Regions from separate parts of the Homo sapiens genome. Here region 2 is linked to region 1. The links come from fine-mapping of genetic effects on gene expression. A gene starts in region 1. The other region holds a variant in brackets. All regions are shown on one strand. Distances are between the middles of the regions.

What was found. PIP is the estimated chance that this variant, and not a neighbour inherited with it, causes the effect. A credible set is the group of variants that fine-mapping cannot tell apart.
Region 2: its variant is the best candidate, but not a certain one, in a credible set for the expression of C1QL1 in transverse colon (CEDAR, PIP 0.56).

What each region holds. Positions count from the first base shown.
Region 1 is chr17:44,965,823-44,971,186 of GRCh38, forward strand. It overlaps C1QL1 (complement C1q like 1), which reads right to left and starts at 2,481. Exons shown (of 2, transcript NM_006688.5): 1 at 1,630-2,481. The coding sequence starts at 2,226. It also overlaps the pseudogene LOC112268183. RefSeq lists silencers at 2,412-2,771, 4,608-4,677.
Region 2 is chr17:45,088,078-45,093,441 of GRCh38, forward strand. All of the region lies in intron 3 of NMT1 (N-myristoyltransferase 1), which reads left to right. Among named protein-coding and RNA genes, the nearest start is that of MIR6784, 24 kb to the right of the region's middle. RefSeq lists an enhancer at 2,647-3,148. The variant GACACAC/G (reference allele first, on the strand shown) is at 3,110.

The sequences.
Region 1 (5,364 bases):
TCAGCCCAAACTTCTTTGGGAAAGGAAGACATTCCATTGATGAAGGTGACATTGCTGCATCCCTTATTGGTGATTAATAGGGGGAATCATGGGGCTGTCTGCAGAATGAGCCTTTGCTGGATACTGGGGCCTCCCATTTGGTCAGGAACCAAGGACAAAGAGGAGAGACACGGGGATGTCTGATAGACACACGTGGGAAAGAGAGACATACAAGGAATAGAGAAGAGTGGGGTTAGATCCGGGGAGGAGAGGCCAGAAACCCAGGGAGAGATGGAAAAGGCAGACACAGGAGAGAGATGGACAAGAAACAGCAAAATAGAAGAAAGAGGCAGGGGAGAGGCAGAAACCAGAGAAAAGGTGTTGGCGGGGCAGCAGCCAGGCAGAGGAAAGAGAAGAAGGGCTGACTTATAAGCACCTGGCAGGCTATCTGCTCACTTTCCCTGCCTGCCCCTGTCTCTGCCCCTAAGACTTGCAGACCCGCAGGCTGGCAGAGCCTCAGGGCAGTGCTGCTGTGGGAAGGGTTCCAACAAGGTCTTGTATCTTAATCGTGAGAGATTCCTTCTCAACTTCCACTAGCTCAGCTTTAGTTCTGACCAGTGGTCCCCTTCTTCGAAGAGAATGCTCAGCCTGACCACACCCCCAGGTCACAGGCCACCACGAGTGAGAGCACTGGGAAGGGAGGTGGTATCAAGAGAGCTGGCTAAAATTGTCACCCCAGGGCGGGGCTGGGTGGAGGCTGGTCCTGGGGTCGGCCATTCCAAGGAGAGCTACACGCACATGCGAGTCCCGGTACCAGAGTCCCCGACACACTCAGTGCTTTCCAGCTGCAGCGTCTGAGATGGGGACGGAGAATGGAGAGGACCCCACACACTCCAGAGTCAGGAGGGGCTGGAGCTGGGAGACCAAGAGGAGGGGGAGTTTCCATCTCTTCCACCACCCCCCACCCCCCACCCCCTCCCCGCCTCAGGAGGAAAAACTCCCCCGCCCCCCAGACTGCCTTCTTTTTGGGGAAGCTCTGCTACAGTGGGAAACAGCTCCCCAACTCCCGGATTTTGCAAAGGGTGTCAGATTCGCCCAATGGTCCCTTCTCCAGGGCAGGGGAGGCACTGCAGCCAGGGCTGTAAGCACCGGGCTCCCTTTGCCTTTGTGCCCCAAACATTTCCTGCAGCCAGCCTTCTCCGCTCGCGCCCATGGCCACGCGCCTAGGCGCCCGCGGGCGCGGATGCTGCTTCTCCCTGTTCCATACGCCAGAGCCCATCCTTGCCCTCCCCTTATCGCCCACTGCTGTCGGCCCGAATCCACTTCCCAAGGGGCAAGCCCCCAAGGGCAAGTCCGTGCACCTGGGAGCCCTGCGCTCTGACTAGTTGGGTTCATTTCCCGCATTTCCAGTAGCGTTCCAGACGGTGCCCAGCAGCGTCTGTCTTGGAGCGGGAACCCAGGAACTGAGGATCGGCGATGTCCGCTGGCTCCGACCATCCCCACACGTGATGACCAAGCGGGGCCGCTGTGGGGTGGGATCTCCACCTGCGTCCGCCTGGCGCCCCCGCCAACTCCGATCAGGTACCCATTTGCCCCGGGCTCCCTGGGTGCCCTGGGCCCAGCCCAGCCCCATGCCCCCGCCTGGCCCACCTGGCCATTCTTGCAGAGGTCTGCCCACATACTGGTGCCGTCGCCGCCGCGCATGAGGACATGGTAGGTGAAAAAGTAGGTGCCGGGAATGTTGCACGTAAACTTGCCGCTGGCCGCGTCGTAGTTGTTGCCTAGGTTGGTGACCACGTCGTCAAACTTGAGTACCTCGTAACCCTCGTGGGGGTTCTTGAGGCCGGCGTAGAAGGCCACGCGCGGCACCGTGGTGTAGGTGGCAGTGCTGATGGCGCCGCTGCCCCCCGCGCCCGGCAGCCCCGGAGGGCCCGGCTTGCCTGGCTCACCCTTCTCCCCCGGCGGCCCCACAGGGCCGGGAGGACCTGGGTCCCCGGGAGGCCCCGGAGGGCCGGGCTTGCCGGTGCGGCCCGGCTTCCCCTGGGGGCCCTGCACCAGCGTGGAAGGCGGGGGCGCGCCGCTCTGCTCGCTCAGGGCGTCGCCGCCGTCGGTCCGCGCGCCGGCGCCGGGGCCCCGCGCGGGGTAGGGGTCGCACACCATGCGGCAGGTGCCCAGCATCTCATAGTGGCCTTCCGGGCCGCCCGAGCTCACCAGCACGGGGATGAGCACCACCAGCACCAGCAGCATCACCACACCCGCGGCGGCCGCTAGCAGCGTCTTTCGGCCCGCGCGGAGCCTGGGGAGCGCCGGGCCGCCCGGCCGCGCCGTCGGGGCAATGGTGCCGGCGGGCAGGGGGCGCGGGCTAGGCGCCCGCGCTCAAGGACGGTCCGGCGGGGCTGCGGGCATGGGGCCGGGCCCGGGGCGCCGCGCTGCGCTGGCTGCGCTGCGGAGCCCAGCCGCCGGCTCCTGCCTCGCGCCTCCCTCCTGCTGCGCTGCCGGACTGAGCGCCGCGGCCGCCGCCTCCCGCCTCCCGCCTCCCGCCTGCAGCCTCCCGCCTGACTCCTCCCGCCTCCTTGAGCCGGGCCACCGCCCCCTCGGCCGGGCCCCGCCCCGCCAGCTCCGCGCGGCTCTGGGCTCTCTAGGGGTGGGGCTGCGGGCGGGGCCGGCGCCTAATTGGGCCGCGGGCGCCTCGAGGTGGGCGGGGCATAAGGGGGCGGGGCCGCGGAGACCCCGGGCGGGAGCAGGGAGAGGAAAGAAGAGACTGAGTACGCGGAGACCGAGATTCGGAAATGGGGTGGGGGCCGGGGTCCGAGAGACCCGAGAGGCGCTCCAAGGGAAGGGGAGAGTAGGGACCAAAATGCGAAAGGGAGAGAGGGCCACAGGGAGAGCTAGAGAGCTCCGAGGGGATCGGGAGAGGAGAGGCTTCGAGGGTCGGTCACCAGGAAAACAGAGGGACTGGGGTCGCGACGGGCCAAGACCCGCAGGGGGCGGAAGCGAGGGGATAGCGCCCAGGTCTGCAGGGGACAAAGAGCGATTGAGGGGAGGACGGAGCGGGGAGCTGGAAGGTAGGATGAGAAAGGGGGTTATGAAGCGAAGAAGAGGATACGGAGGGGACCATTTGGCACTCAGGCCTCGCAGACCACCCGTCTGGGAGATCCAGATATCGGATGAATGCCTGTCCGGGGGCCCAGCGGAGCCAGACGGCAGCCGCCTCCTCCTTTCTGGATCTGACTGTTCCGGGACCCGTCTCCCCCGAGGTGGGGCAGGAGCTTCCAACCCCTCCTCGCCTCTGCCCCTTCCTCACCGAACTGTGGCCAGGCTGCTTTTTCCTGGGCCCTTTTCTTCCATCTCCCTCTGCTCAATCCCTTTACTTCTGCCTCTAGACCAGGGAGAAAAGGGGATCCTAAAAAGGTGGGCACCCCCACGTTATTTCTCCATGCTGACAGATGCAAATACGTCCCTGAGGGGTAACCCCCTTTTCCAGCCTCCAGGATGAGGGGTGGATCTCATCCAGCCCCTCAGCTCCTCCTCCCTCACTCCCCAGCCTCCTCCGCCGCCCCCTAACTCTTCTCCCCATCAGGCTGTGGGAGGCTCTCCTCTTCCTCAAGTGCAGCAAAGTGTTTAGGTTGCATAAACCGAAACGTGTCTGCTTCCATCAAAATATTTGTCACATTATCTGAGGCCCAGGTCGGGCTGCTCCACCGCTCCTCCTTCGCCCTCCTTTATCCGGCCCACCGGGGAGGATTCAGCCATTCGGAGGCGACTGGCCGGCTGCTAAAGAATGACATCCCAGCCTCTCCTCTCCCGAGAGCTACCCCCCGCCGGCTCACACTCTCCCTGTTGACCCTTCACCATGGGCAAAATGATTCCCTGGCCTTCCCTACCCAAGGTTGAGGTCGCTCACCTCATCCAGGGCTGGGAGTAGAAGGACACAGGGACATCCAACGAGGGGGCTGTGAAAGAGGACCCTCCAAGCACTAATGGCTGAGGCCAGGTTGGAGTGACCCCACCACCACCAAGGAGGGAGCTAAAAAATTTTCAATAAGTAGCATTTATTCAGGGTTTACTCTGTGCTAGGCCCTGTGTTGAATGTTTTACATACATGATCACCCTTGATCTTCACATCAGTCCAAAGAAGTAAAATCCAAGATTATTTTAATTTTACAGATGGAGAACTGAGGCTCTGGGAAGTTAAGAGATTTGCTTAAAGTCACACAACTAATAAGTGGGAGAGCCGGGACTCAAACTCGTAGCCTGGCTCCAGGCTCTTCCAACCTCAGCGCGATAGAGTCTCTAGGTACCGTTTACTGCCCAAAGCCCAGGGGTAGGGGGCTCAGGGCAGCCAGACCTCCCTAGGCTCAGGAAGAGTAGTCTTCAGCGCTCGGCTGTCAGGCAATCCGGTCCCCGGTTCCCCACGGCGGTCTCCTCGGTGTGCCCCACCAAGAGCGACAGGGCTGGTGACCCGAGGGGCGCGTGCGCGGTCGTCAGCCTGGGATTTGCACGGACCCCCTTCTCCCTAGTACGCTCGCTCGGGGGCCCCTCCTCTGCTACGCCGCTGGGGCTCGCCCGCCACCCACAGCCCTCGCAGAGCCCTCCGGGCACACCGCGGCTGGCCGCCCGGGGCCAAGGATGGGGCGGGAGCGCCCACCCACCCCCGCGCCGGCCGGGGCATCCAAGAGGCGCGCTCGCAGCCACACGGCGCCCCGCCTCCCGCTCCGAAAAAGCTCCTGCTCCCCTGGCGCGGTGTGGCGTCTCCGTCAGCCCAGCCGGATTCTCCCCGCTTCGCTGGAGTGGAAAATAACGGCTTCAAACTTTGCAGAGAGGAGCTGGTGCCAGCACTTTAATTAACAGCCATCTTGGCCTGTGAGCTGGGGCCACCGGCTTGGCGCCTCCCCTGGGCTCGCCAAGCCCCGCCCTGGCTCCGCCCAGGCCCCCAAAGAAGCACCCCTTAACCACCTACCCGACCCTCCACCCCCATCCCCTGCTCTCAGCGCCCCTCTTTCCGGGAGATGAGGGCTTGGCTGATTGGGGAGAGAGTGCTGCCTTGAGGGGCATCTCCCAGCTTAACACCTGAAGACAGTCACAACCCCCCCATCCGCCATACTGCCCCCCAACATTGTTTAAAGCTGGACTGTTGAAGATTCTGAAATTAAAGACCTGAGTGCCAGCCGGGCGCGGTGGCTCACGTCTGTAATCCCAGCACTCTGGGAGGTTGAGGCCCGAGGATCGCTTGAGCTCAGGAGTTCCGAACAAGCCTGGGCAGCATAGGGAGATCCTGGCGTTGTGGCTTTTACCTGTAGTCCCAGCTACTCAGGAGGCTGAGGCGGGAGGATCGCTTGAGCCTGGGAGGTCGAGGCTGCAATAAGCTGAGATTGCGCCACTGCA
Region 2 (5,364 bases), 120 kb after region 1:
GAGGAGGTGCATCCCCACGGGTGAGGGAGAGCAGAGCACTGCCCAGGTGGACAAGAGGGGTGCTGATTCCCCCATCACCGTGTGTGTTTGGCTGCCCTCATCGGCCAGGTCCCAGGCCCACTGGCTAAGCCCTCCAGCAAGGCTTTGGGCCACAGGGTAGGGTCCCAGTGACCAGTTTCTCGCTGAGGAGCAGGAAAGATGCAGAGAGCCACACATCTCACCTCTGAATGAAATCCCTGATGAGGTGTTGTGTGGTGGCTGCCATGTATCTTGGCTCTGTTTTCAGATGGCATTTTGGAGTTTTGGTTTGATTTTATTTTTCCTGAGGAATTTGCAAATGAGTAACCTTGCTACATTCTTCACAGATAGTGGCACTTGGGAAAGAGGCAGATTGAGGCTGGGCGCAGTGGCTCACGCCTGTAATCCCAGCACTTTGGGAGGTCGAGGCAGGCGGATGACCTGAGGTCAGGAGTTCGAGACCAGCCTGGCCAACATGGTAAAACCTCGTCTCTACTAAAAATACAAAAACTAGCTGGGCTGGTGGCATGGGCCTGTGATCCCAGCTACTTGAGAGTCTGAGGTGGGAGAATCACTTGAACCTAGGAGACAGAGGTTGCAGTAAGCTGAGATCGCACCACTGCACTCCAGCCTGGGCAGCAGAGCAAGAATGCATCTCAAAAATGAATTTAAAAAAAAAAAAAAAGAGGCAGCTTGGGATTAATTTGCTTCTGTTCCTCTTCAGCCCAGCATACTTTGTTTTCCTTTCACCTGTAAATGTAGAAAGTGCTTCAGTTTAGTTCTCAGAAAGCTCAAGAGAAAACCACACAGTTGCTCATACGGGCCCTGACACTTTGAGGAAGGAGGAACAAGGTCTGGTTTTATTTCTTCTGGCTTTGCCTTCTGTGCAGTGTGTGGTGTCGGACTCCATGGAAGAGCAGTCACCCTGAGCATCTGACTAGTCTGCCTTTGAGGTCCAGGGTCAGTCAAGCCCCAGTTAGATTCCTGTGTTTGTGTCAGCCTGTAAAAAGTGCCACCTTGGCAGGCGTGTTAGCCTGCATGGCTGAGGCGTCACCCTAGTTCTGAGTTTTCTCAGGGGTGGTGGTACCTACAGCTTCTTGCCCTAATTTTTTTTTCACTTAATTGGAGGACTAATGATTATAAATCTCGTGCATATCAGCTGCACTGTGTTTTTACAGTACTCTCCACCTTCTTGGGAGAGTTTTAATTAGATGGTATTCCACTAAAGAAACCTACAAGTCTCTCTGATTTATTTATTTATTTATGAGACAGAGTCTCACTCTGTCGCCCAGGCTGGAGTGCAGTGGCGTTTTCTCGGCTCACTGCAACCTCTGCCTCCCAGGTTCAAGCAGTTCTCTGCCTCAGCCTCCCGAGTAGTTGGGATTACAGGTGCCCACCACCACGCCCGGCTAATTTTTGTATTTTTAGTAGAGACAGGGTTTCACCATCTTGGCCAGGCTGGTCTTGAACTCCTGACCTCGTGATCCACGTGCCTTGGCCTCCCAAAGTGCTAGGATTACAGGCATGAGCTACCGCACCCGGCCCTCTCTTTTATTTTCTTGAGACAGGATCTCGCTCTGCTGCCCAGGCTGGAGTGCAGTGGTATGATCATGGCTCACTGCAGCCTTGATCTCCTGGGCTCAAGCAATCCTCCCACCTTAGCCTCCTGAGTAGCTGGGACTACAGGTGCCTGCCACATGCCTGGCTAATTTTTAAATTTTTTGTGGAGACATGGTTTCACTATGTTGACCAGGCTGGTCTCAAACTCCTAGGCTCAAGCTGTCCTCCTGTCTTAGCCTCCCAAAGTGCTGGGATTATAGGCGTGAGCCACTGCACCTGACTGAGACCTGCAATTCTTTAGAAGCTTAAAATTATCCTAGGTTTACCATGGAAAGGCCTTCTTAGGCCGGGTGTAGTGGCTCAATGCCTGTAATCCCAGCACTTTGGGAGGCCAAGGCAGGAGGATTGCTTGAGCCCAGCAGCTCAAGACCAGCCTGGACAACAGGGAAAGACCTCGTCTCTACAAAAAAATTTAAAAATTAGCCAGACATGGTAGCACATGCCTATGGTCCCAGTTTCTCAGGAGACTGAGGTGGGAGGATCGTTTGAGTCCTGGAGGTCGAGGCTGTAGTGAGCCATGATCGTGCCACTGCACTCTAGCCTGGGTGACAAAGCGAGTCCCTGTCTCAAAGATTAAAAAATAAATAAATAAAAATGAAAGGCCTTCTTAGCAGAAGTGTTTTAGTCTGTGTAACAACTGTAAGAGCCGCAGATGAACTTTTGATCCCCCACTCGAGATCATGTCGTTCTTCTTTTTAAAGTCACCCCTTTCCCACTCATGTCAACGGAAGCAGTATCCTTTTCTGTCTTTGGTCAGTGGAATGCAGTGTGGCCACTCTGTTTTAAAAAGTCACTATCAAAGGGAGGATGTGCACTCACCTGGTTTCCATGGGTCCCAGAGAGAAGCTTCCCCTCTCTTTTTCCTCTCCTTGGCCTTTGTTTGGTTTAATGTTTTCCGCATCTCAGACATTCTCATTTCTCCGAAGTCCTTCACAGTTGCACCGCATTGCTTAGTTTTGGGTCTCTGATGTTTGATGTCATGGAGAGAATTTTGAGGGAAGAGTGTGCAGAAAGAAACCCATTGAAAGCTCAGGGTTTTCTTTAAACTTCCAGATTCTTTTAAAGCAAGTTCGAAGTGTCATCCTTAGTCATTTATTGGTTCATGTTGGCCTTGAGAGAATCAGCTGCATTCTTGCTGTGCTCTGCAGAGCAGCCTTCCACCCCTGCTCAGCAGGAGGTACTCAAAGGCCATTGTAAGGGAGAAGGCAGGCTGCTCCCCACAGAGCAGGACAAGCAGAGGCCATGATGCTGGCACCACACCGAGGACAGCACAGGAGCCTTGGGCTGCTTCTTGGCATCGAGGGCACTCCACAGTGGGAGTCTAGTAAAAGTGGCTGCTCCCTTTTCAGTGTTTCCTGTAGCTCTACTTTTTCACACCCACCCTGCCCCACATAGTCCACCTGCAGCCTGGCTGATTCCTAATTATCCTTGAGGTCTTGTCGTTAGATATTTCCTCTGAGAGGTCTTTCCT[GACACAC/G]ACACACACACACACACACACACACACACACACACACACACACACGTCCCATAGCACCCTGTACTTCATTCTTACTGGCCCTCACCATGCCGGGTGGCATGTGCATCCTTGCTCATCTCTTTGGTGTCCATGATGGTGAGGACCTGTGTCTGTTTCATTCGCCAGCCCCTGCCACAGAACTGGCACATTCTAGGATTCAGTGAACACTTGGTGAAGGAGTGAGTGAATGGAAGTGCCTGTTGCGTGTAGGACCTAGTAGCCAGCCTAAATGAGAAGATTTAGCCTTGAGGTTATTTTAGTACAATAGGGAAGACCATCAGTATTCTTGGCCATGGAAATAATTCAGGGGGAAAAAAAGAAGGTTCTGAAGTGTATAGGAAAAGGTATAAATTCAATACAAGTTGGGAAATTAGCACCTAGATAAGACTAGAGGGTCTGGCCCTCAGTTTTGTAGGCTCAAAAATGTTTTTTTAATATACATAGCTGTCAGTTGGAAGCGGATTGACTTAAATTCACAAGAGCTACTTTATGAATAATCAAATGGTGGGTTTTGGCTGGGCGCCGTGGCTCATGCTATAATCCCAGCATTTTGGGAGGCCAAGGCAGGAGGATCACTTGAGTCTAGGAGTTTGAGACCAGCCTGGGCAACAGTGAGACCTCATCTCTATGAAAAATAAAATTAGCCAGGCGTAGTGGCGCATGCCTATAGTCCCAACCACTCGAGAGGCTGAGATGGGAGGATCGTTTGGGCCTAGGAGGTCGAGGCTGTAGTGAACCAAGGTTACGCCACTGCATTCCAGCCTGGGCAACAGAGCAAGACCCCATCTCGCCAGTCATGAGTTTCCTAACTAGGGAAGAAAAATATGACCTCTCTCCCAAGCAAACCTGTTGGGAAGCCTGATTACCAACAGAGCAGGCTGCTTCCCTGTTGTGTGTCCCTGCACTTTCCAGATCCTGACCTGCAGCACGTGGATAATGACTCATTTATTTACTATTTCCCCAGAAGATGGTATGTCTCATGAGGACAGGGACTTGGTCCTTTTTCCTGCTGTACACTAGGGGCTGGCATGGTCACTGAGTCACTGGTGCACGGTTGGTGCTCAGTAATGTGTCTGATGGAAGAGGGTGAGATGATCAGTGCCAGCGGTGGTGTCGTGTGCTGCAGCCTGATGCAGCCCTTTCCACCACACTTGCCCCACAGATTATCATTCTGGGAAGGTCTAGAGCTTCCTGTTACATGTTAGAATGAAATGTTTGGACTTTGGGAGGCCGAGGCGGGTGGATCACTTGAGGCCAGGGGTTTGAAACCAGCCTGGCCAACATGGTGAAACTCCATCTCTACTGAAAAAAAAAAAACAAAACACCAAAATTAGCCAGCGTGGTGGCGGACACCTGTAATTCCAGCCACTCGGGAGTCTGAGGCAGGAGAATTGCTTGAACCAGGGAGGTGAAGGTTGCAGTGAGCCAAGATCGCACCACTGTACTCCAACCTGGGCGACAGAATGAGACTGTCTCAAAAAAAAAAAAAAGAAAAGAAAAGAAAAAAAAAATATTTGGGATCAGGAGTCTGAAAGTCAGTAAAAGCATGAATTGAGTGCCTAGTCTATACAGAGCCCTTTGCTAGGAACACTGTTACTGGGTTGGTCCCTTTTGAAGACTCCATTTTCCAAAATGCACTAAACATTGCATTCTTCCCAGTGTAAACATGAGTGAGCCCATTGTAGAACCGAAATCATCCCAAGGGCCAGAATTCAGTGGTGAATCTCTCAGCATATATGAGTCCGATTGAGCTCTGGATAGGAATGAGGGCTGTGTCTTTGGAGCACTCCCCACATGCTCCCACAGAGGAGGGGCCTATCCTGCTCAGGGAGGGGATGTTGTGTCAGGGTGACTTCCCGGCAGCACTATGTAGACTTGGTGATTCAGCCCAAAGGCACTTGCAGGACTCTAAACACTGAGGGCCTGAGTTGGCAGTAGCAGTTAACTGGCTCACGCTGCTGAAAGCCAAGGCTGGCAGGGCCACGATTGAGCCTGGCGCCTAGAAGCCATCATCTGGTTCAGAAATGGGCCCAGTACATTGTTGTTGCTGTTGACACAAAAGCAGCCTTGTTGTGACTCCTTACAAACCCATCCAGACTGATGGGCCTGGGCCAGGGCCCTGACAGCACTCTTTACACCAACCAGGAGGCAGGAAGCCAAATTACTAAAGATAAATGTTTGTCATTCAGTGACCCAAGGGAGATTTAAAT